Regions from separate parts of the Homo sapiens genome. Here region 1 is linked to region 2. The links come from fine-mapping of genetic effects on gene expression. A gene starts in region 2. The other region holds a variant in brackets. All regions are shown on one strand. Distances are from middle to middle. Region 1 overlaps CAP2 (cyclase associated actin cytoskeleton regulatory protein 2). Region 2 holds the start of FAM8A1 (family with sequence similarity 8 member A1).

Evidence for each region.
Region 1: its variant is fine-mapped to the expression of FAM8A1 in nasal epithelium (TOPMed, PIP above 0.99).

The regions. Positions count from the first base shown.
Region 1 is chr6:17,517,363-17,529,412 of GRCh38, reverse strand. All of the region lies in intron 7 of CAP2 (cyclase associated actin cytoskeleton regulatory protein 2), which reads right to left. Among named protein-coding and RNA genes, the nearest start is that of FAM8A1, 77 kb to the left of the region's middle. The variant G/A (reference allele first, on the strand shown) is at 6,793.
Region 2 is chr6:17,594,795-17,606,844 of GRCh38, reverse strand. FAM8A1 (family with sequence similarity 8 member A1) reads right to left here and starts at 6,543. Exons shown (of 5, transcript NM_016255.3): 1 at 5,724-6,543; 2 at 4,135-4,255; 3 at 1,816-1,939; 4 at 832-971. The coding sequence starts at 6,435. It overlaps LOC102724591 (a long non-coding RNA gene), which reads left to right and starts at 7,869. Exons shown (of 5, transcript XR_007059485.1): 1 at 7,869-8,092; 2 at 10,869-10,974. RefSeq lists enhancers at 4,137-4,637, 4,638-5,138 and a silencer at 6,205-6,684.

The sequences.
Region 1 (12,050 bases), 77 kb after region 2:
GCCTTGGCCTCCCAAAGTGTTGGGATTACAGGCGTGAGCCACCACGCCCAGACAGAGTGTGTTTATATTTTCAATGTCAAAACTAATTTCTTTCTATTTTATGCAAGATGTACATTGATCAATAACTTAGTGAAACTGACACCTTTCCAAATTTGTTAATTTCCATAATAACTTGCAAATTTTACATTCATATTTATAGCACACTTTTATTAGAAGACAACTATAGTCAAGTAAAAAGGTGCACATAAAACTAAAAGATGATCATCCTGTATAATGTGAGTGTAACTGAATTGAATTTATGACTTTTGTCTCCATTCTCTTATTTTTATCATTTATTGGAATTAAAAAAATTTTTTTTTTGTAGAGATGGGGTCTCACCACATTGCCCAGGCTGGTTTCAAACTCCTGGGCTTAAGTGATCCTCCTGCCTTGGCCTCCCAAAGTGCTGGGATTACAGGCGTGAGCCACTGCACCCGGCTCCACTTCTTAGAATTTTGAGACTTCTGTCAATAAAAACAAAGTTTCTGGGGGCCTTTCCAAGAACACAGAATTGTTAATAATACCACAGTGAAGTGCTGTATAATATTTTAAATATATGTTTATTAATAATTTTTAAAAAGTCAATTTGGGGAAAACAGAACACTACTGGAATTTCAGATTTCCATGAAAGTACTAACGGTACTTAAATACAGTCAAAATAAAAAGACAGTCCCACAAATATGAAGGAATTGTGGGGCCCATTTGGATCCGTTTTCTTCAGAGGCAAAGCTCCAAACACCCTTATCCCAAGATACAAAGACCAGGGGAAAGGTCAAAAAACTCAGATCTCATGGTTTCGTCGATGATTTCTGATGGTTTCATGATTCTCCACTCCTCCCACCCTCCTGTGGTCCCTGTATGTCATTCCTTTGATGACCTGGAAAGATCTGAGCTTTGGCAGTACATGAAAAAAAGACAGAGCAGAAAGCAAAGTTGCTTTAGAGAAGTAACAACAGCTTAAAATCAGAAAACAGCCTGGGAATAACATGTGCTGTCTATATTAGTACCTGTAAACCAGTAACTTAGTGTCTTTATGTTTGTTTTTCTCTAATTTATGCAGATGCTCCTTGACTTATAATGGGGTTTCGTCCCATAAACCTATTATAAGTTGAAAATATTGTAATAGTCAAATATGCATTTAATACACCTAATCTATTGAACCTCGTGGCTTAGCCTAGGCTAACGTAAACGTGTTCAGAACACTTACATTAGTCCACGGTTGGGCAAAACCTTCTAACACCAAGCCTATTTTACAATAAAGGGTTGAATATCTCAGGTAATTTATTAAATAGTGTACTGAAGTCAAAAACAGAATGCCTGTATGGGTACTCAAACTGCTACCTGTATACCCAGATGTGGCCCTTCTAAAAACATAGGTGGTGATTTCTTTTCTACATGCTCAAAGTAAAAATTTTTGATAAAAGCAGACCAAGCCCTCAGAGTAGAGTCCAGAAGAATATAATGAACACATGGCCAGGCACAGTGGCTCACGCCTGTAATCCTAGCACTTTGGGAGGCCAAGGCAGGTGGATCGCTTGAGGTCAGGAGTTCGAGACCAGCCTGGCCAACAGGCCAACATGGTGAAACCTCATCTCTACAAAATATATAAAAATTAGCCAGGCATGGTGGCACAACCTGTAATCCCAGCTACTCAGAAAGCTGAGGCACAAGAATCGCTTGATCCCGGGAGGCGAGACTGCAGCGAGCCGAGATCGTGCCACTGCACTCCAGCCTGGGCGACAGAGCAAGACTTTGTCTCAAAAAAAAAAAAAAAAAGAAAGAGAACAAAAATGAAAAAGAATATAATGAACACAATCTAATATGCTCAAGTGATCCATATATTCTGCATAAATTGCCTTGATATGTGGCCATAATTATTAGTTTGGCTTTGCTGACATTTAGATCAAATCTGGAATTTCCAGATTGTCTTTTCTTCTTGTCTGCCAGCTTGAGAATACAATTTCTCATAAAAAAGGAAAGATAAAATTAAATTTTCCATGGGAAAACTTTCCAGGGTTAAAGATAGCAGAGTATACTCATCAAAGAAACAAACTCAAGAGGCCCAACAGTTATATAAAGACCAAGAGGGACATGTGGCTTGAATTAGCTGGACAGCTACTTCATTTGGCCAGAAGGGCCTAAGTCTGAACTACCACTAAATTCAGGTTTTTTTCTTTCAGATTTCAGGGGCATACAGAAACGACTGTACTTTCTCCAATTATCTATACTTAGTAGATAGTAGAGGTGGGGGTTAAGGCAAAACAATAGCTGTTAGAAAGATTAGTTACCTTTGGCTCCATATTATATATGCATTTTGTTTATTTAGGGATGCTTAGTTTGCATCAAGGGTGCAGACTGGACCAATAAACCGTGGCCAGGGCTTGCCTATGTGTTCTTTTTTTTTTTTTTTTTTTTTTGAGACAGAGTCTTGCTCTGTCGCCCAGGCTGGAGTGCAGTAGCATGATCTCAGCTCACTGCAATCTCCGCCTCCTGGGTTCCAGCGATTCTCCTGCCTCAGCCTCCCGGGTAGCTGGGACTATAGGCATGCGCCACCATGCCCGGCTAATTTTGTATTTTTAGTAGAGACGGGGTTTCACCATGTTGGCCAGGCTGGTCTCGAACTCCTGACCTCAGGGGATCTGCCTGCCTCAGCCTCCCAAAGTGCTGGAATTACAGGCGGGAGCCACTACGCCCAGCCTGTGTGTTCTGTTTTATGAAGGGTTTGTTTTACCTTTAGAAGATAATCTGCACCTTCCCCCATTTCCCTTTTTAAGAAAACAGTTTTTGCTTAAGTTAATACTACCTTCTGTTTCCTGAGTTTATACCAACTGAGAATGAAAGGCAGTGGGTGACAAGGGACAGGAGCAGAGGAGGTGTGGGCGGTTGATGGGTGTTCCTGAATAAAATGCATTGTCCATTCCATTCCTATCACTGGACAGAAGGAAAGACACATTTTGGCTGGGTGCGGTGGCTGACGCCTGTAATCCCAGCACTTTGGGAGGCACAGAAGGTTGGATCACCTGAGGTCAGGAGTTTGAGACCAGCCTGGCCAACATGGTGAAACGCTGTCTCTACTAAAAATACAAAAATTAGTCAGGTATGGTGGTGCGTGCCTGTAATCCCAGCCGCTCTTGAGGCTGAGGCAGGAGAATAGCTTGAACCCGGGAGGTGGAGGTTGCAGTGAGCTGAGTTCACACCACTGCACTCCAGGTTGGGCGACAGAGCGAGACTCCATCATTAAAAAAAAAAAAAAGACACATTTTCATGCAGCTTTTGAAAAACAGACATGATCTATAGTTAATGGACTAACGCTTTGGAAATTTCATTGTGATGACAAATGAATACAGTGGATTTAGCAAATGTGTTTGAATCCTATCTGTTTTCAAGTCACTGCTGTCCCAGAACCAGGGTACCAGTCACTGCTACTGATCTCAGGCTGAACTGGAAATGGAGCCTGCATTCAATGAGCTCATAGTTTAGGAAGAGAGGATACTTCTGTGTTCCCAGACGTGGCAGGCACTTGGCTCCCAGACTTTGAGTCTTTGCTCAGGGCGTGTCTAGTTTGGAAGGCTCTTGCCCAACTGACTATCTGGAAAACAGCCTTCAAGCCTCAACCAAAATGTGTCTTTCCTCCTTTCGTAGGGTTTTTGGAACTCTCTTAGGAGGGAATTCCATGTTTCAATGTGGCACAGTGCCTGAAACATGGTTAAGTGCTTCATAAACATGTTACTGAATGAGAAAATAACTGCCATATAAGGTAGGAAATGCTAAGCAACACAAAAGAAATGGAGAGTATAAGAAGTGCTATGCAGCCGCTGAGGATGGAAGGATAACTTCCAGCTTGTGGTGGGCATGGTGATAAGCAGAGGTTGGAGAAGCTTCTTTTTTCTTTCTTTTTTTTTTTTGAGATGGAATCTTGCTCTGTCACCCAGGCTGGAGTGCAGGAGTGCAGTGTGTGATCTACGCTCACTGCAGCCTCCGCCTCACAGGTTCAACCGCCTCGCAGGTTCAATAAATGTATATTAACTTGCTAGCCCTTATTTTAGAGAGCTTTGAATTCTTGATTATGAAAAAGTTCTGGTAAATAAAATAATACTGACCATTAAAGTAGGCAGCTTTAAAAGCTACTACTATTTTGATTGATGGAGAGAAAGATTTAATACTCTAAAATGGCCAGGTGTGGTGGCTCATGCCTGTAATCCCAGCACTTTGGGAGGCCAAGGCGGGAGGATCACCTGAGGTTAGGATTTCGAGACCAGCCTGGCCAACATGGTGAAACCCCATTTCTATTTTTAAAAAAAGTACAAAAAGTAGCCAGGTGTGGTGGCGCGCACCTGTAGTCCCAGCTACTCGGGAGGCTGAGGCAGGAGAATCGCTTGAACACGAAAGGCAGAGGTTGCAGTGAGCCAAGATCATGCCACCACTGAACTCCAGCCTGGGTGACAAGAGCGAAACTCCAACTCAAAAAAAAAAAAAAAAAGAAAAGAAAAGAAAAGAAATACTCTAAAATATTTATAGATTCTTATTAAGGTATGAGGCAGGCTTGACTGGGGCTGGGCAGGACTTGAATGCCAAACCAGACTGAAGACTCGCTGCAATGGGGGAAAGAGGTGAAAGCACCTCTCCAGAAGACATGCCCACCAGGGCCATGTCAGTTGACCACTGCCATGGCAACACCTGGAAGTTACTAACTACCCCTTTCCATGGCAATGACCTGGAAGTTATCACCTCTTTTCTAGAACTTTCTGAATAACTTCCCCCTTAATTTGCCTATAATTAAAAGTGAATATAAATATAATGGCAGAATGGTCCCTGAGCTGCTACTCTGGGCACAGTTCCTATGGTACCCCTGCTGCTGCTGCACATTGCTGCTGCCATAGAAGCTGCTGTCTAACACCGCTGGCTCACCCTTGAATTCTCGCCTGGGCAAAGCCAAGAACCCTCCTGGCTAAGCCCCACTTTTGGGGTTCACCTTCCCTGCATCATTATCAACTGACACTAAAACTCAAAGGTATTTATGAGATAATAAAAACAGTTCTAAATAGAACACATTTACTTAGAGCTTCACAGTATAGCTCTTAATGACTGTGTGTGAAATTGGAGATATTTGACTATTTTTCACCTATTCTATTGAAGATATAGCACAGATTAAAATGAAAATTCACAAATACCCCAAATTTCAAAAGGCAGAAATTGAAGCCATAAGAAATAATCCATCAAATTAGACAACTGGTCCAGAAATAATCAAGAGATCATTACAGGAAAACTTCTTACTCCTTTTTTTTTTTTTTTTTTTTTTGAGACAGAGTCTTTCTCTGTCACCAGGCTGGAGTGCAGTGGCGCGATCTCAGCTCACTGCAACCTCTGCCTCCTGGGTTCAAGCCATTCTCTCCTGCCTCAGCCTCCTGAGTAGCTGGGACTACAGGCATGCGTCACCACGCCCAGCTAATTTTTGTATTTTTAGTAGAGACGGGGTTTCATCATGTTGGCCAGGATGGTCTTGATCTCTTGACCTTGTGATCCAACCGCCTCAACCTCCCAAAGTACTTTGATTACAAAAACATTTTACTCCTTAATTCTGTAAAACTGCATCTGCCTCCAGTCCTCCAGAAACTGCTCTTGGAAGGTTACTAATAACATGGTAAACATGGCTGATGACAGCCTTTGTCCAATCCTTATTCACCACAGCTTACTACAGTTGGTATCACTGGCCAGCCTGTTTTCCCTATAGCTTTGAGACTCTCCATTCTTCTAGTTCTCCTATCTCTTGTCTCCTTGATTAGTTTACCCCATTCTTGAAATAATAGTGTTTTCCAAGGTTTTATCCTTGATCTCACTCTCTCTTTTTTAACCATCTTATTTATTTGCCGGTCTTTTCTAGGTAGATGACTCCCAACACGTACATCGGGGTCTCCCCCTTCAGTGAATTCCAGATCTAAATCTCACCTCCTGACTCCACGTGTTTGGATGTCTCTCCTATACCTCCCGCACCTCAAACACAATGCAGTGAAACCCCAGGTGAAGATTTTTCTTCCTTCTCTACCAGCTCCTCCTTGCGATTTCCCTATTTTTATATTACCACGATTCTCTCCCAGACTTCCAGATTGGAAATTTTGTGTTAGATTTTATGTCCCTTGTCCTCCAACTCAGTGGCTACTCCATCTCTTTGCATTGCCATTGTCACACTCTAGGTCACATACTAACTACCTCACCCTCTAGCCATCCACTAAAGTCTCCCAACACGTATCAGGGCCTCTAATCTCTTCCCCTCTCCATCTATCTTATGCAATTCCTAAGTCATTATTCACAGTGTGTTGCTTTCTGCTTAAGAACCCATGCAGGCTGGGTACGGTGGCTCACACCTGTAATCCCAGCACTTTGGGAGGCCAAGGCGAGTGGATCACCTGAGGTATCAGCCAGGCATGGTGGCATATGGCTGTAGTACCGGCTACTCTGGAGGCTGAGGCAGGAGAATCACCTGAACCCAGAATGCGGAGGTTGCAATGAGCCGAGATCGTGCCACTGCACTCCAGCCTGGCGACAGAGTGAGACTCTGTCTCAAAAACAAAAAACAAACAACAAAACCTATGGCAAAGGAAACAACTTCAAACACTACATAGCCCCACCTTCTTAGCATAATGCATAAGGATTTCACCATCTGGCCCCAACCTGCCTTTCTGGCCTCACCTTTTGCCACATTCAGCTCTGCAAAACCACCAGCCTTTCTCTCAAAGTACATTGTTCATGTCTTAC[G/A]TACATATGCTGAATTCTCTGCCCCAAAACTGCCCTTCCCTTTACTGTTTGCCTAGGGAACTCCTGCTCACCGTCAAGATCCAAATCAAGTGTCAGCCCTTTTGTGGCTCTTCGTGCCCACCCAGGAAGGAGTCTAATTCACAAGGCTTATTTTCCAACCTAGCTTTGTATTGCTGTTATTTATTTATGCATCATAATAAAAACCCTGCTGCTTCACGGAAGAACTGTAGTATAAATATAATGCCTGGTGTGTGCTTGGTACATGGTAAGTAGCCAATAAGTAGTTACCAAGGAAGTGAATTACTAAATAAATGAACGTGTAAAAGTGAATGATTTCCCTATAACAACTCCTTTGGCCCAACTTAAATACAGTAGAGCAGTGCTTTTCGAACTTCACTATGCATATAAATTACCTGGGAATCCTGTTGAAAAGTAGGTTGTGATTTGGGAGGGCTGAGGTGGGGCCTGAGAGCCTGAGATTTCTTTTTTTTTCTTTCCTTTTTGTCTTTTTTGAGACAGAGTCTTGCTCTGTCGCCCAGGCTAGAGTCCCGTGGTGCAATGCAGGCTGACTGCAACCTCCACCTCCCAGGTTCAAGCGATTCTCCTGCCTCAGCCTCCTGAGTAGCTGGGATTACAGGTCTGCACCACCACGCCCAGCTAATTTTTGTATTTTTAGTAGAGACAGGTTTTCACCATGTTGGCAACACTGGTCTCGAACTCCTGACCTTAGGTGATCTACCCGCCTCAGCCTCCCAAAGTGCTGGGATTACAGGCTTGAGGTACCGCGCCCAATCAAGGGGCCTGAGCTTTCTAACAAGTGCCCAGGTTGCTGTTGGCCCCAGAACCATGCTGCACTACAGGATGGGCCGTATCTTCCACGTGGTCCTGGTCTATGCAAGCGTCATGCCTTGTGTGGATTCCCTAGCACACTGCTCCCCCTGTTCTATCATGGTGCATTGCTCATCTTCTTCAGCTAGAATGCGCGTTTCCGTGGACAGGAATCGTGTCCACAATGCCATCTACCCATCTTTGTATTCTTAGCCCCTTGCCCAGAACTCAGTGCATAGTAGATGCTTAAGCCATATTGGTTTAATTATGTGGTCTCTGTCAGGCTGAACTCACAGCCACTTCCAACCTAACTTTACTATCTACCTGTGCATTTGAGGCTTCTTTGTTAGTTGATGACACTTCTTTTTTTTTTCTGAGACGGAGTCTCGCTCTGTGGCCCAGGCTGGAGTGCAGTGGTGCCATCTTGGCTCACTGCAAGCTCCGCCTCCCAGGTTCATGCCATTCTCCTGCCTCAGCCTCCCGGTAGCTGGGACTACAGGCACCCGCCACCTTGTGCGGCTAATTTTTTTTTTTGTATTTTTAGTAGAGACAGGGTTTTACCGTGTTAGCCAGGATGGTCTCGATCTCCTGACCTCATGATCTGCCCGCCTCGGCCTCTCAAAATGCCGGGATTACAGGCATGAGCCACTGCGCCCAGCCAGTTGATGACACTTCTAACCCCTGTTGAGCAATGTGGAACCCTTCCATAAGAGAATAAGAGTAACTGGCCACCCAGAGCCCCAGAAGGGACCTAGAAGCCCAAACTGAACTAAGTAGAACGACGCAGCTGTGGTCAGGTACACTGGCCAGGGCCACTCCGTGGGAAGAGCCATAGAGAACAGTGAGCTTTGTCATCAGACAACCAACACATCATCTGAGGCGCTGCCCATTCACTTTGATTAATACCCCTAAGGTGTGGGTTTGGTACAAGTTCTAAATGAAAATTTGGATATAAAAGCTTAAGAACAGTTTTCTCTTGTAAATAGCAAGAGGAAGGTAAAGAGGCCTGAAGACTTGAAAACGTACAAGGCATACATATTCATAGTTAATGACATGCCACAGAGTCTACATTATTTATAATAAGTCGGGATACCCTCTGGCTGAGTTTTAATTTGATCAAAAGTAAGCTATTAAACTTTCACTTTGTTAACAGACATTTGGCCTTTACACCAAGAAACAGAAAGAAAAGAAATATCTACCTGGAGGAAAAGAAGTGATCCTAAAGCATTTTGCTTTGGGAAAAATGAAACGCCACCTTGTCTATAATTGTAACCACCACCAACGACTTGCATTTTCCTGGAGGTTCAGGAGAGGCTAGGATGGATGATAGTGTATAGGATGGATTTTTAAAACCCGTATTATTAAGAATTACATTGGCTGGGTGCAGCTTATCATCCTACCATGCTTATCATCCTAGCACTTAGGGAGGCCAAGGCAGGCGGATCACTTGAGCCCAGGAGTTTGAGACCAGCCTGGGCAACGTGGTGAAATCACGTCTCTACAAAAAAAATATAAAAATTAGCCAGGCATGTTGGTGCACGCCTGTAGCCTCAGCTACTTAGGAGGCTGAGGCAGGAGGACTGCTTGAGTTCAGGAGGTCAAGGCTGCAGTGAGCTGCAATCGTGCCACTGTACTCCAGCCTGGGCATCAGAGCGAAACTCTGTATCAAAAAAACAAAACAAAACAAAAAACAGTAACAACAAAAAAAATAGAACTACATCACTATTACATAAGACTGTATATACATTCATCCATGTGCAGTTTTATTCTACTCTACAAATAATTATATCTTATTTGATCCCAAAGCTAAAGTAATTCAGAAATATAGGAAAGGACAGAAATATGTCAACAAGTTTAACAACCGAAAGTTAATAAAATAATCACATTTCTCCTAATCATAGAATTCTTTACATGACCTTTATCTGAGCAGAATTTTCTGAACAGATAATAGTCTGTTTTTAGAACAGGATAATAGTCTGCATTTATAGATTCACAGAAATGAAGAGTTTTGTAGGAAAAAAGTCAATTATTTCAATAATTATAAGGGTAAAGACTAGGCCTTAGTCTTTCGACTTTAGTTATCTGATTTGAAGGAAATGCCAAGGAATATTACAGCTCTGACCAACTGCGAGGGATCCTAAGTAACAGTGCTGCTAATGGGTTTGTGCCAAAAGATCAATTTGTTCAACGAAGTGCATTTGAAACTTAGCACTGAGGAAATGACACAAACTCATATGAAAAAGAGGTCCAGTCCCAAGGATGAAACTAACTGAAAACAGCAAGTTAGTTTCTGGTGTGGGGTCTTTCTAGTTGACAGCTGTCTTAATAAGTTGGAAAAAAGCTCATAGAAATGACAAGATTCCATTTACCATGGTAAATGTAAGAAGACATTCCAGACAGATTATTCCACAGCTGCCTCCTCCCACCCAACTCACCCCACCCCACCCGGCACACTTGCACACACACGTAGACTCTCTTCAAATCGCTGGTCTCAAAGTTTGGCATTTCACCCTGACAACTGAACAGGGCAGCAGTTGCCTGACACAGCTGCGGTCTGGAGGCAGAGGTTAGGAGATGGGATCAGGGACTTTCAGCTCCAACTGTTAACTCAGGGAAGGATGATTTTGTAGAGCCACGTGCCCTTGGACAGTCCAGGTCTCAAACAGCAGGCTGTCAGTCACTAAAAACCCCACAGAGTGCAAATCTCAAAATCCAATTTGAAAATAGAAAAAAACAACAATTACTGAAAGTACTTGAGATGTTAAGTCGTCATAAACTTTTCACGGTGCAAGTAGGAGTTTTGTGCAATGGACTGTGTCTGTTAAGATGGAATGGGTTTTTTTGAAAAACCTCTGGGCTGGATGTGGTGGCTCACGCCTGTAATCCCAGCACTTTCTGAGGCCGAGGTGGGCAAATTCCTTGAGCTGAGGCGTTCTAGACCACCCTGGGCAACATGGCAAAACTCTGTCTCTACAAAAAATAAAAAAATTAGCCAGGTGTGGTGGTGCAGGCCTGTAGTCCCAGCTGCTCGGGAGGCTGAGGCAGGAGGATCATTAGAGTCCAAGAGGTCAAGGTTGCAGTGAGCCATGATTGTGCCACTGCATTCCAGCCTGGGTGTCACAGTGAGACCCTGTCTCAAAAAAACAAAAAAATTAAATTAAAAAAAAAATCTCTGAATACTGTGGTGTCCACAAACATCAACACCACATCTTTCTATAGTCTTTCATGATATTTATCATTTTATAAATACATAGTTTTTACAGAGTTGTGATCAGTGGGCAAACAAATGAAATGGTCTTGCTTTATTTTTTCCTCCCAAAGACCATTCAATCAGATGATTCTAGGAGTCCTTTTCTCTTCTCTGCAAGAATGCTGCAACTCTGGCTATAACTGTTTATCCTCCATTTTGCTGGAATGTCGACAGGCCACAGTCAGAGAGGAGAAATTAGCTTGATTTATGCTATGGACTATGCTTTGGAATCTTTAAGTCGTTTTTAATAATTTAAAAGAAATTTGATTTTAAAATTCAAAAATATAATTGTTATAATATACTTTTTAATAGCTGCCCAAACCTTGGAAGAATAAGATAAAAAATCAGGAAATATATTTCTAGGCATATGTTTTAAAGCTTGACAAAAGATTTTTAATCATTTTTAATATCTGACCAAAACTTTATCATTTTCTCTTCCATTAGAGAAGTGAAGTAGATGCTTTGCTTTTACCATTTTGAATAGAATATTCCCCTGGCATATTATGTGAGCACATAATATGTATAATATAAATAACAGCTGTCATGGCAATCCATGATGCCTGATGTGCTCTATGGATCATATTTATTTTGTATAAATGTAACACGTTTTATAACTATTTATTTATTTATTTATTTATTTTGAGACCAAGTCTCACTCTTGTTGCCCAGGCTGAAGGGCAGTGGCACGATCTCGGCTCACTACAACCACTGCCTCCCGGGTTCAAGCGATTCTCTTGCCTCAGCCTCCCAAGTAGCTGGGATTACAGGTGCCCGCCACCATGCCTGGCTAATTTTTGTATTTTTAGTAGAGACAGTGTTTTGCTATGTTGGCCAGGCTGGTCTCAAACTCCTGACCACAGGTGATCCACCTGCCTCAGCCTTCCAAAGTGCTGGGATTACAGGCGTGAGCCACCACACCTAGCTTATAACACATTTTAAAAAATGTGAGATATGACTCACTAGTGGGGTCATGAAATCAATTTATTGGGTCTCAGCCAGAATTTTATAAAAAATGAAATAAAAAATAAAATATCTGAATGTGTTGTACATAGTAAGAGCAAGTATTGTTTTGTGAAGCTTGAACATAATAAGTATTCACTTTAGAACAAAGGAAGACAACTACATTTATATTTTTCTGTAATTAATAATCAATTCTCTTTTATATTCATAAACACAATTA
Region 2 (12,050 bases):
TCAACTGACTACCAGCCACTGACCTCCACAGTTTCCATTATCACTGGTTGTACCTTCCCCCAGCGCTAGATGCCAACAGCTAACCTTGAATACTGGCAGTATTACAAGCTCTCACCTAACAGCAGGAGAAGGATGCACGAATGCATAGCTGTCAAAACTCTGCTGCCTATTCAAGATGGAATAATGACAGGCATGGCCAAATGGAGACTCAAGGCAGACTAGTACCTGACCTAACATCCACAGGTCCAAAGAATAATAAAGCTGATTGTGGAGCACTAATACACCATCAACACCCAAATCATCCTCTCGTATTGTGACTTATAATTCATAAAATGATCATCTTGAGGCAGGGCATGGTGGCTCACGTCTGTAATCCCAACACTTTGAGAGGCGGAGGCGGGTGGATCATGAGGTCAGGAGATCAAGACCATCCTGGTTAACACGGTGAAACCCCGTCCCTACTAAAAATACAAAAAATTAGCCGGGCGTGGTGGCGGGCACCTGTAGTCCCACCTACTCGGGAGGCTGAGGCAGGAGAATGGCGTGAACCTGGGAGGCGGAGCCTGCAGTGAGCCGAGACTGTGCCACTGCACTCCAGCCTGGGCAACAGAGTGAGACTCCGTCTCACAAAAAAAAAAAAAAAAAAATCATCTTGAAAATGTGTACTGTAAAAGAGGTCTACAATCATGTAACACAACTGAAATAAATATTCAAACTTTGTTTTAACTTAATAAATATAAGCCTATCTACTATGAAGAAAAAAACCCCAATATTCTAAAACACATTATTTTCATTAAGTATGTAGTAGATTAAGCTAAGAAAAGGACTTACGTTGTAATGCTAACATTTGAGGAAGGAATCACTAAAACCCGACTTGGTGCAATAAGCACTGATGTATCACATGTCACAACTCGAAGCCCCAGCAGGAACTTCCCTGGGGTAGCTCCACCTGCTCCCCAAATGCAAATTATCTAAGGAAAGAAGGATGATTTAAAAATTACTGGCTCAACTATACCAATTTTAAAGATAAACTTTTCCCACCATATTATTTCATGTTTTAAATTTTTCAAGTTGAAAGAATTGCATAGAATACTCAAAAGTTAACCATTTAACTTTATGCATTTCTGTAGGTCTCTAACATGTCCAATACCACAAGATGTCTGTCTCCTGTAATATTTCTCTATGACTACTATACTTTCTAGTAAGCTGCTTCTGCAGAAAACTACATTGCAATTTACAAGTATATTTTTGGACCACAATCTATAAGTGAAATTTTATTTGAGTTTCTAAGACTGAAAAATATTACAAAGAAATTGTAAAATGTCTCTCTTCCAAAAGTTTTTACTTAATGATTAGTTAAAATTTGGGAAAAAAAACAGAAAAGTAGACATGTGGAAAAGACATGAATAATTATAAATTTCGATTACTTTTTCGTCTTGGGCTGATAATCTAAAATTAGATTGTTGGCTAGGTGCAGTGGCTCATGCCTGTAATCCCAGCACTTTGGGAGGCCAAGGTGGGCAGATCACTGAGGCCAGGAGTTTGAGACCAGCCTGGCCTACATGGCAAAACCCTGTCTCTACTAAAAATACAAAAATTAGCCAGGTGTGGTGGTATGCACCTGTAGTCCCACCTACTCAGGAGGCTGAGACAGGAGAATCACTTGAACTCAGGAGGCAGAGGTTGCAGTGAGCCAAGATCACACCACTGCACTCCAGCCTGGGTGACAGAGCGAGACTCTGTCTCAAAAAAATAAATGTAAAAACATAAAATTAGATTGTTAAATATTAATTCTTGCTGAAGTCAGTAGCTTACCTCATAGAAACAAACTAATAATCTGTATATAAGTGCCACAACCATCATTTTCTGCAAGTCTTCCATTGATGTGTCTTCATCTATTTCTTCTATTATATAATGCATAGCAAACTTAGAGATATCCCTACACAAAATAATAGTTTGGGGTTATAAATAATTAGTTACCAGAACAGTAGCACTGACTTTTTTTTCATTAGTGCAAGTCATACATTTTAATTGAAATTCTAAACTAATCTTTAGATTCCCAACCATCTAGTATCATAAAGCATTCATTAGTTTATTCAACAAATAAGCAGCATTATCATGAGCAGACACTGTACTAGCACGGGGGAAATAAGGGTGAATGAATTTACACGGTCCCTGCTTTCGTGGAGGGTCTAACCTAGCAAAGAAAACAGAACAATAAATAAATAGCAATAATAAAGTGGGATGAGTGCTGTGATGGGGAACCTAGGATACTATGGAAACATACACCAGATACACTTAACCTTGTGAAGGTTTCCCAGAAAAGACAGTTAGATGAGGCTCTGAAGGATGAAGAGAAGTTAGCCAGACTAAGAAGAGGAAATAACGTTCCAGAAAGAGGGAACAGCAGGAGAGAATGTCTTGGAGAAAGAGAGAATATGATAGAAGCTGTAAGCAGTTTGGTGTGGCTCATATACTAAATGTGAGAGGTGGCAGTGATTAAGAAATAAAGGCAGGGTGTGGTGGTATGCACCTGCAGTCCCACCTACTTGGGAGGTTGAGACAGCCTCCTGAGTATAAACCACATGATGAAATTCAGACTTTATCCTGCTGGTAAAGAGAAACCATTGAAGGGGCTGAGCATGGTGGCTCACGCATGTAATCCCAGCACTTTGGGAGGCTGAGGTGGGAGGATCGCCTGAGCCTAGGATTTTGAAAGCAACCTGGGCAACACAGACCCCATCTCTAAAAAAACAATAAACATTTTAAAAAGAGAAACCATTGAAGGGTTTTAAGGTAGGAAAGGAACAGAACCAGGATTTATGATCACTTTGGTTTTATATCAGAGACTGGATTGAGATAAAACAGGAGACTGAGTTACCACTAGAAGGCTTCTGCTATAATCCAAGCAAGAGACGACAGTAATCGGAGTAGGGAGAAGCAATGATGATAAAAAATGGGCCAGGTGTGGTGGCTCATGCTTGTAATCTCAGCACTTTGGGAAGCTAAGGCAGGAGGATCATTTGAGCCCAGGAGTTTGAGACCAGCCTGGGCAACATAGGGAGACCCCATCTCTACAAAAAACAATTTTTTTTTTTAATTAGCTAGGCATGGTGGAGCATGCCTGTGGTCCCAGCTCCTTGTGAGGCTGAGGTGGGAGTGTCACTTGGGCACAGGAGATCAAGGCTGCAGTGAGCCATAATTGTACTACTGCACTCCAGCCTGGGTGACAGAGCAAGACTCTGTCTCAAAAAAAGAAAAATGATCTGGCAGTGAGGAGGTCTGGGGTTGAAAGCTATTCAGAAAATTGAACATAAAGGAGTTGGTATTTCACTGGATGTGGAGTGGAGTGAGAGGGAGGGACAGGGAGGAATCACAGTAACAGGTTTCTGGCAAGGACCCTGAAATTTGACTGCACAGGCTTGTATCTTGACTCTGTCACTTACTACCTTTGTAACATTTTAGGTTCTGTGCTCAACTTTTCATAAACCCAAATTTCAAACTCTATAAAATGGTGGTATTAATCTCTACACCTCATCTTGGTATTAAGATTAAATAAGAATCCACATAAAGAAGTGAGCAAGCTCAATACATGGCATATAGAAAGTACTCAGGAAGTGGTAACTGCTATTATGATTATTGTTAATCTGGAAGGATTACTCAAATAAACGTCTCACTTTGAAGTTCACTTGGGACTTGCCCCACAGTATGTGCAATCCCATTTGGAAATGCCATCTAGTTGATTATTAATTCACCTACCAAAAGCTCTTTATACCTTTGTCTTTAGAGACTCCACAAGATAGCAAGAGGGAACAGGATAGTGAGAGGTAAATTAGTTCCTGGCCTAAAAGAATAGGTGAATAAAATCAAAGCAGGTTTGGAGGCTCTTTTTACCTATTTTTGATAGGTGAGATTCCCACACATCTTATAGAATTCAGTAAGCTATTTTTTTTCCTTTCTAGTTATTTCTTAAAATCAACAAGAAAACAATAAATCTAACAAAGCTCTTATAAAGAAATCATGACACTGACAAGCCCATTATCCATATAGTCACGTGTAGACAAACAGAATGTAATAAAACAAGATCATTAAACAGTAGAAATTAAAACCCTTCTGCAAATGTCCTCAACTTACTTTATCCCACTGAGGTGCATAATGCTTAAGACAATGGTTGCTTTTATAAAGAAGAGAATAAAGAAATCCACCATCTCTGCCATAAATCTGTGGGCCAAGGATGGAATAACATATTCTCTGCCTGTAAATTAAAAAAAAAAAAAAGTTAGGAAAAACGAATCATTTCACATAAGCCTTGGAACACAAGCCATGTAATGAATTGCTAAAGAAAGTCAAGGTACAACTTAATAAAAAATATTTATAACCGTGCAGCAACTATTGATATTGATTCCACCAAGAATCCATGTTACTAAAATAGAGTAACAGAGAATCCACTATTTACTGAGCTTAAAGTTTGCTTTCATCACCTTAACGTTTAAAAATTGATTTCACACGGCCAGGTGCAGTGACTCACGTCTGTAATCCCAGCACTTTAGGAGGCCGAGGCGGGCAGATTGCTTGAGGCCAGGAGTTCGAGACCAGTCTGGCCCTGGCCAACATGGCGAAACCCCGTCTCAACAAAAAATACAAAAATTAGCCGGGCGTGGTGGCGCATGCCTTTAGTCCCAGCTACTAGGGAAGCTGAGGTGGCAGGACGGCTTGAACCTGGGAGGCGGAGGCTGCAGGGAGCCAAGATCGCCACTGCACTATCCAGGCTGGGCGATAGAAGCAGACCTTGTCCCCACCCTCCCCACTTTCCCCCTAGAAAACTGATTTCACAGATAAATTTGATTAGGGTACCCACTACATTTCACTAGGAATTCTAATGAGGAGAATCCAGGTGATCACATCTAAGTCACACAAAATTAAACATTTTTTAGTACAAATCAAGGTTAAATATTGGCAATTAGTATAAAGTAAATCCCTGTAATCCCCCCCCACCCGTTTTTTAGTTTGTTTTGCTTTCTTTAAAATAAACCCAGTGAGTATCAATCTGTCATCCTAAATTCTGACTGGGATCAGAGGCATCAACTAGTTCTTGTCCCATCTATCTGTGGCTAACTAAAATAAACTAAAAGTCTAATAGTTTAAATAGTAAACTAAGAAGTGTAACTAATTCAAAATATTCTAGTTCACACACAGAAGCAAAAACAATTACACAATATACAAGATATTGATCAAATGAAGTGAAGCTTTGACCCAATCAAAACTTCCTAACTCCACTTGTATCCATGTCGATCTCCTTTTATATCCGTTCAGTTCCACTGTCCTAAGTAGCCAATGTCTGAATAATTTTCAGCATTACCAGTCGAGCCCCTCCAAAAGTGGGTTTGCCATTTGCGAATTTAGCTTTGGCCCTCACTGCAGAGCGTGAAAACCAAAGGAAGAGGATGGTTTGAAGAGCAATTTCTTTTCACGAATAAACAACTAGTCCCATGAGTAAGGGAGTCAATTTGGAGTGCCAGGTCTAAAGGAAGAAGAAACTGTATTGCCTCCTTGTACATTTTGGGAATTTAGGGCCTGGACAAACGATAGCTAGTGAACTGAACGGGCAGGATAGTCAATCAGAGTAGAAGCAGCAGTTACAGGTCTAAAAAGCGTGCCAGCTCTACCCCACAGGCCCCCGAAAACCCTTCTACTCCGCCCAGCCTCCACCTCGCGCTTCTCACCTGCCTGTCGCCCGGTCTCGCTCGGGCTTCGCGAAGGGGCTGCGGATCCTACCCTCGTCACTGGAGTGGCCCGGACCGACGCCTGCACGTGAGGAGCCCGGGGTCCCAGGCCCGCGACTGGAGCAGGGGTGCTGATGCCGGCAGCTGTCCGCGGGTCAGGCCCCGCGGCCCCGGGGCTCAGGAAGTAGAAGGGGTTGTAATAGCCCAGCTGCGGGGGCGGCGGCGCCGCGGCCTGGGGGACTGCAGCGCCGCCCGAAGGGAAGCTCTGCGGGGAGGGCTGGGGGCTGCAGTAGGCTGGGAAGGCGGCCAGGCCGCTGTGCCAGGTGAGGTAGCCGCAGTAGGACTGCCACAGCCACTCGTGCACTTGCCGGGAGTACTCGCGGGCGCTCAGCCGAGCTGGTCTCTCTCGTGGCGCCGCGGCTTCGGGCGCCTCGCAGCCCGCCTGCTCCTGCAGCTCTGCACCGGAGCCGGAGGCCGCCTCCCCGCGCTTCCTGAGCTCGCGCGGCGGCTCCAATTTGTCGGCTGCGGCGGCAGCCGCGAGGCCCGGGGCTGTGGGCCGGCCCGGGGCCTGGGGTTCGGCCTGGGGGTCGTCGCGGGGGCATGGGACGGCGGTGGTAGGAGGGCCTCTCAGGGAAGGGACGGGCTCGTGGTCCCCTCCGCCATCGTCCTGCCCGGGAGGGTGGCCTCGGGCTTCCTCGGGCCCCTCGGCCATCGTCGCCTCAGCAGCACCCTCTGGGATACCTGTCACTGCTCCGTTTCCCTCCCCCAATGGCCCCTCCCCAACAGCCCCGTCACCACCGCAGCAACCGCAGGCGTCAACAATCCCCCGCCGGAAGCGGAAGCCCCGCCCCTCAGGAGCAACGCCCGCCGCCAGGCGGAGCTGGGAAGGGAGGGCGGGGAGGTGCGTCTGCAGTCCCGGGTTCGGGCCCTAGTAGTCGGTGGCTGGTCGGTGACTGGGACCAGACCGTCGCCTCCTCCCTTTTACAGCTTTAAGTCTGTGACCCGAGGCCTCTCTGTATATTCCCGTGGGGTTGGGCCTAGTTGTCCTGGGAGAAACTAGATGGATGAGGAGTATTTCCGAGACAGGTCCCAGGGCCAGCGCAGCCTTTTCTGTTGCAGAACCGCGACTGTTGTTTTGGGATCCAGGCCGGAGGGTTTGTTGCTTGTGTTCATTCCAGTTAACCATTAGTACTCGAGAAGGTGGTACAGAACGCATCTATCCCCTTAGAAGAAAAGAAATTAAAAGCCAAACTAAACTGGGATATATATTAATATAGGAAACTACCACTGAGACATAGGAAAGTGTATTAAAATATAACTAGTGAGGTGCTATGTATAATTCAGAGGAAGGGGAAATTATGCATGGGCCAGACTACTAACAAAAGGCTCCAAAGCCTGGGATACGCTGAGGGCCTTTCCATAACAGAAAATGAAAAGGAACCTAAATTTGAGACTAGATTTGAGGAAAGGCACAGTTGCGCTGGAGTAGAAAGCGTCTGTCTACCGCAGTGGAAAGTAAGTTTTCGTAAATGCAGACTAGCTCCAGGGTGAGGACAGAATCTAGCTTTTAAATCAGTATAATCTCTCTTCTTTTACATTTGAAAATCTCTGCAGCGATATGTTATTGTATCCCCAGCACCATACAAAGGACATACAAGGGCCAAATACTGTGGGAATATTTATTAATGATATTAATGATGATGCTGTCCGGGCCAAAGGAAAACTTCCGCTTCACCTTCTGAAGTTTCGCTGAAAGTCACTGACAGGAGGCAGTTAATAGGAGAAAAGACATAGACATTGATTTGACCATCGTTTTATGTGACACGGGAGCCTTCAGAATGAAGACCCAAAGATAACAAGGGAAATCGTGTATTTGTATGCTTAGGTTCAACAAAGCATGGACAGCCGTATAAAAAAATGACTGGACAAGGCCGGGCGCGGTGGCTCACGCCTGTAATCTCAGCACTTTGGGAGGCTGAGGCGGGCGGATCACAAGGTCAGGAGATCGAGACCATCCTGGCTAACACAGTGAAACCCCGTCTCTACTAAAAATACTAAAAATTAGCCAGGCGTGGTGGCGGGCGCCTGTAGTCCCAGCTACTCAGGAGGCTGAGGCAGGAGAATGGCGTGAACCCGGGAGGCGGAGCTTGCAGTGAGCCGAGATTGCGTCACCGCACTCCAGCCTGGGCGACAGAGCGAGACTCCGTCTCAAAAAAAATGACTGGACAAAAAACACTCTGATGCAAACAGGCAAGAAACCCAGCAAGGCCTATCTGGATTCTCCTTGGCCTGTCTGCAGCATTCATTCCTTCTGGGTATGGAACAGGACCCTCTGGAATGGGGGCTGTGGCCTACAACAGTTAAACAAGGTAGGTCAGATAATTTTTCTTTTCCTTCTTTTTTTTTTTTTGACAGAGTTTTGCTCTTGTCGCCCAGGCTGGAGTGCGATGGTGCGATCTCGGCTCACTGCAACCTCCCCCTCCCAGGTTCAAGTGATTCTCCTGTCTTAGCCTCCCGAAGTAGCTGGGATTACAAGCGCCCGCCATCACGCCCAGCTAATTTTTTTTGTATTTTTAGTTGAGACGGGGTTTCACCATGTTGGCCAGGCTGGTCTTGAACTCCTGACCTCAGGTGATCCACCCGCCTCGGCCTCCCAAAGTGCTGGGATTACAGGCGTGAGCCACTGCGCTCTGCCAGATAATTTCTCTATGTCCAATATTTGCACAGAAAGGGGTGCAGGGAGGTTAGAGTAATATTTTTAGGTTTGTGGCTGGCTTTGGGAAAGGGTGGGGTTTTGGTTTCTATGCCCTGCTTTGGGAAAGACGGATTCCAGTTTCTATGACTAGCCTTGTGGGTGGGGGTGGGGGGAAGAATGGGATTGAGACAGGAGGGTTGGAGAAGGTGGGAAAAATCTTTTGCTTCTGAGGTCTTCATTTTGGGGTATGGTTTTCTGAGTTCCAACAATGCCCAGGGTCATTCTTTTTTTTTTTCTTTCTTTGTTTTTTTAAAGACAGGGTCTCACTCTGTCACCTAGGCTGGAGTGCAGCAGTGTAGGCACTCCTCACTGTAGCTTTGACCTCCCAGGTTCAAACTATCCTCCCACCTCAGCCCGAGTGACTGGGACTACAGGCACGTGCCACTGCCCCCGGCTCATTTTTTTCATTTTTTGTAGAGATGGGGGTCTCACTGTGTTGCCCAGGCTGGTCCCAAACTCCTGAGCTCAAGCAGTCCACCCGCCTTGTCCTCCCAAAGTACTGAGATTACAGGTGTGAGCCACCACGCCCAGCCCCAGAGTCATTGTTGGCTTTATTCTGGGAGATATAAAAAGCCATAATTTTTTTCCTTAAAAAGCTAATGATCTAGGTTCAAGGGACAGACTGTCAAGAAAACTGAAAACTTATTCAAGAATTCAAAATAAGGGAAAGATTATGGTAGCCTATAGCTAGAAAAGTTTACCCTTACAGATTTCATTTTAAAATCAACTATGAGAAAATTTTAATGTTTAAACAAGCATTCCAAGTTGGGGTGAGGGAAGAAAGAGAAACAGAAACAAAGAAATAAATGTGGCTTGGAATGAGTGAAATATGATTATTGGAGACATGGACTTTGTTTTGAATACCACTGTTTCTGTAACACCTGGCACAGTGTCACTGTAAAGATATAAAATGATATGAAACATGAAACAGCAAAACAAGCCAGAAGAAAAACTCAGGAATGAAGTAACAGAACTTGGGAAAGAGTTAGAAATAAAAGAAAAACTGATTTCAGAAAAGAGGACTAAAATACAAGGAATAAAAGAATAAGAAAATACAATAGTGTCTGAAAAGAACTACAATTTGAAAATGAGTTTTTTAATCAAAAATAAATGTAAACAGAAATAATTTGAGAGAAATGATAAATATTGAAAATAGGCAAAGAAGATCCAACATATAGATTAGAAGTTCTTGATAAAGAAAACCCAAGACAGGTAACAGAACTAATTATAACACATTATAATTCAAAAAAATTTTTTTCTGAAATACATATATATATGTGTCCTAACATTACACACACACACACACACACACACACACACACACACACTCTCAGAGTCATGAATCACTTAACAACAGGGATATGTTCTAAGAAATGCATCATTAGGCGACTTTGTCCTTATGGGAACACCATAGACTGTACTACTTACACATACCTATATGGTACAGCCTACTATATACCTAGGCTATATGGTATAGCCTATTGCTCCCAGGCTACAAACCTGTACAGCATATTAATGTACTGATTACTGCAGGCAGTTGTAACACAGTGGTATTTGTACATCTAAATATATCAAAACATAGAGAATACAGTAAAAATACAGTATAAAGGGTTAAAAATGATACACCTGTGTAGGGCACTTACCATAAATGGGGCCTGCAGGACTGGAAGTTGCCGTGGGTGAGTCAGTGGTGAGTGAATGTGAAGGCCTTGGACATCACTGCACACTACTGAAGACTTGATACAAAACTGTACACTTAGGCTACACTAAATTTATTTAAAATTTTTTTTCTTCCATAATAAATTACCTTTAGTTTATTGCAACATTTTACCTTATAAAGTTTTTGATTTTTTAAAAACTTTTCAACTCTTTTGTAATAACACTTGGCTTAAAACGCAAACACATTGTACAACTGTACAAAAATATTCTTTGTATCCTTATTCTATAAGCTTTTTATTTTTAAAGTTTTTGATAATTATTATTTTTTTTTACTTTTTAAGCTTTTTTTGTTACAAATGAAGACACAAACACACATTAGCCTAGGACTACACAGGGTCAGGATCATCAAAATGTCACTAAGTGATTGCGACACTGTACTCCAGCCTAGGTGACAGAGCAAGACCCTGTCTCAAAATAAAATGAAATAAAGATGTCATTAGGCAATAGGAATTTTTCAGCTCTGTTATAATCTTGTGGGATCACAGTGGTATATGACATTCATTGTTGACCAAAATGTCGTTATGCAGCACATGACTATATACATATATCTATATGTATATAGATATATAGATATATAGTATGAAATGCCAAGTCCCACTAAAAGAAACAAGGGGTTCTAGGTTTAGGGCAGGAAATGTATGGAATGAGCACGAAATATCTTATTATACTAGAGAGCAGAGAAATGATTAAAGACTTCTGGAGTCATGTCCAAAGGACCCAGCCAACTAGAAGAGGCTCCTATTGGCCATGGATAGGACAATTTGAGTTTCAATAAAGGTAATAATTAGAATGGACTGAAACCCATCGTATATGTTTAAATATATAAATTCATAGTAACGTGTAGTTTTACCAAAGGGATTAAACCTGAGTGTGCTCAAGCTTCTTGATCCAACTGCCAGTTTACAGAAATAGAGGACAAAGGAGCATATTGAAATATGCCATGAGTGTGCAATCTGCAAAATCCAGACCATGGGGAACCCTGCAAAGTAAACAACTGGGTTATTCAATATATATATTATAAGTGGGGGGGGGGGAAGAAATAGAACCTATAGCTTAAAGGAGGCATAAAAGACATTAAATTAATGAGCAAGACTATAATGTCTAGGGATATACTTAAATGCAAAAAGAAGTGGTTATTTAAAAAGTCAGGGTAGTGATGGGGGTGAAAGGAGTTTGTGATTGGGATGGAGCACATGGACAGGCTTCTGGTGTGGCTGACAAAGTTCGATTTTCTTGGTTTAGGAAGTGATTACAAGGATGTCCACCTTATAATAAACCATAAAGCTGTTGAAGAAACTGACAAAAATGAGGAGTTTTCTACTCATATACCCTCACTCTAAACTCCAAAAGATAGATATAGATATATATAGATATATATAGATATATACTTCATAAGAAGGAAATGCAACTGAGAAGCATGGAGTGAGATGCAAAAATAAATGACTTTATGAAAATTAGACCCTGCAAGACTAATTCCTGAGTTAAACAAGTTTGAGAAAAATAGTCTGTAAAAGCACGACGAATTGACCGCATGTACTTATCTCCCTTCCAAAACACTCATTGAAATAAAACAAAGGAATAAAGTTACAAACCTACAAGGTAGATGTATTTTTGCAAGGTAGAAGGTCCTTGAGTGAAGGAGAGGTTCAAAACTTGGAGGTATATGGTACTTTGGAAATTGGAAGTAAAGCACAGTGCTTAAACGAAGCAGATTAAACAAAAGTCTGTATGCTGAATAGTGGCTCCTCATCCTCCAATTTTTCTCCAGCCCTGCTCTTGGAATAACTCCTAAGCAGATACTGGAGTATTCTTTCAAGAGACTCAATGGTCCCAGAAAATAACCTTTTTTTATG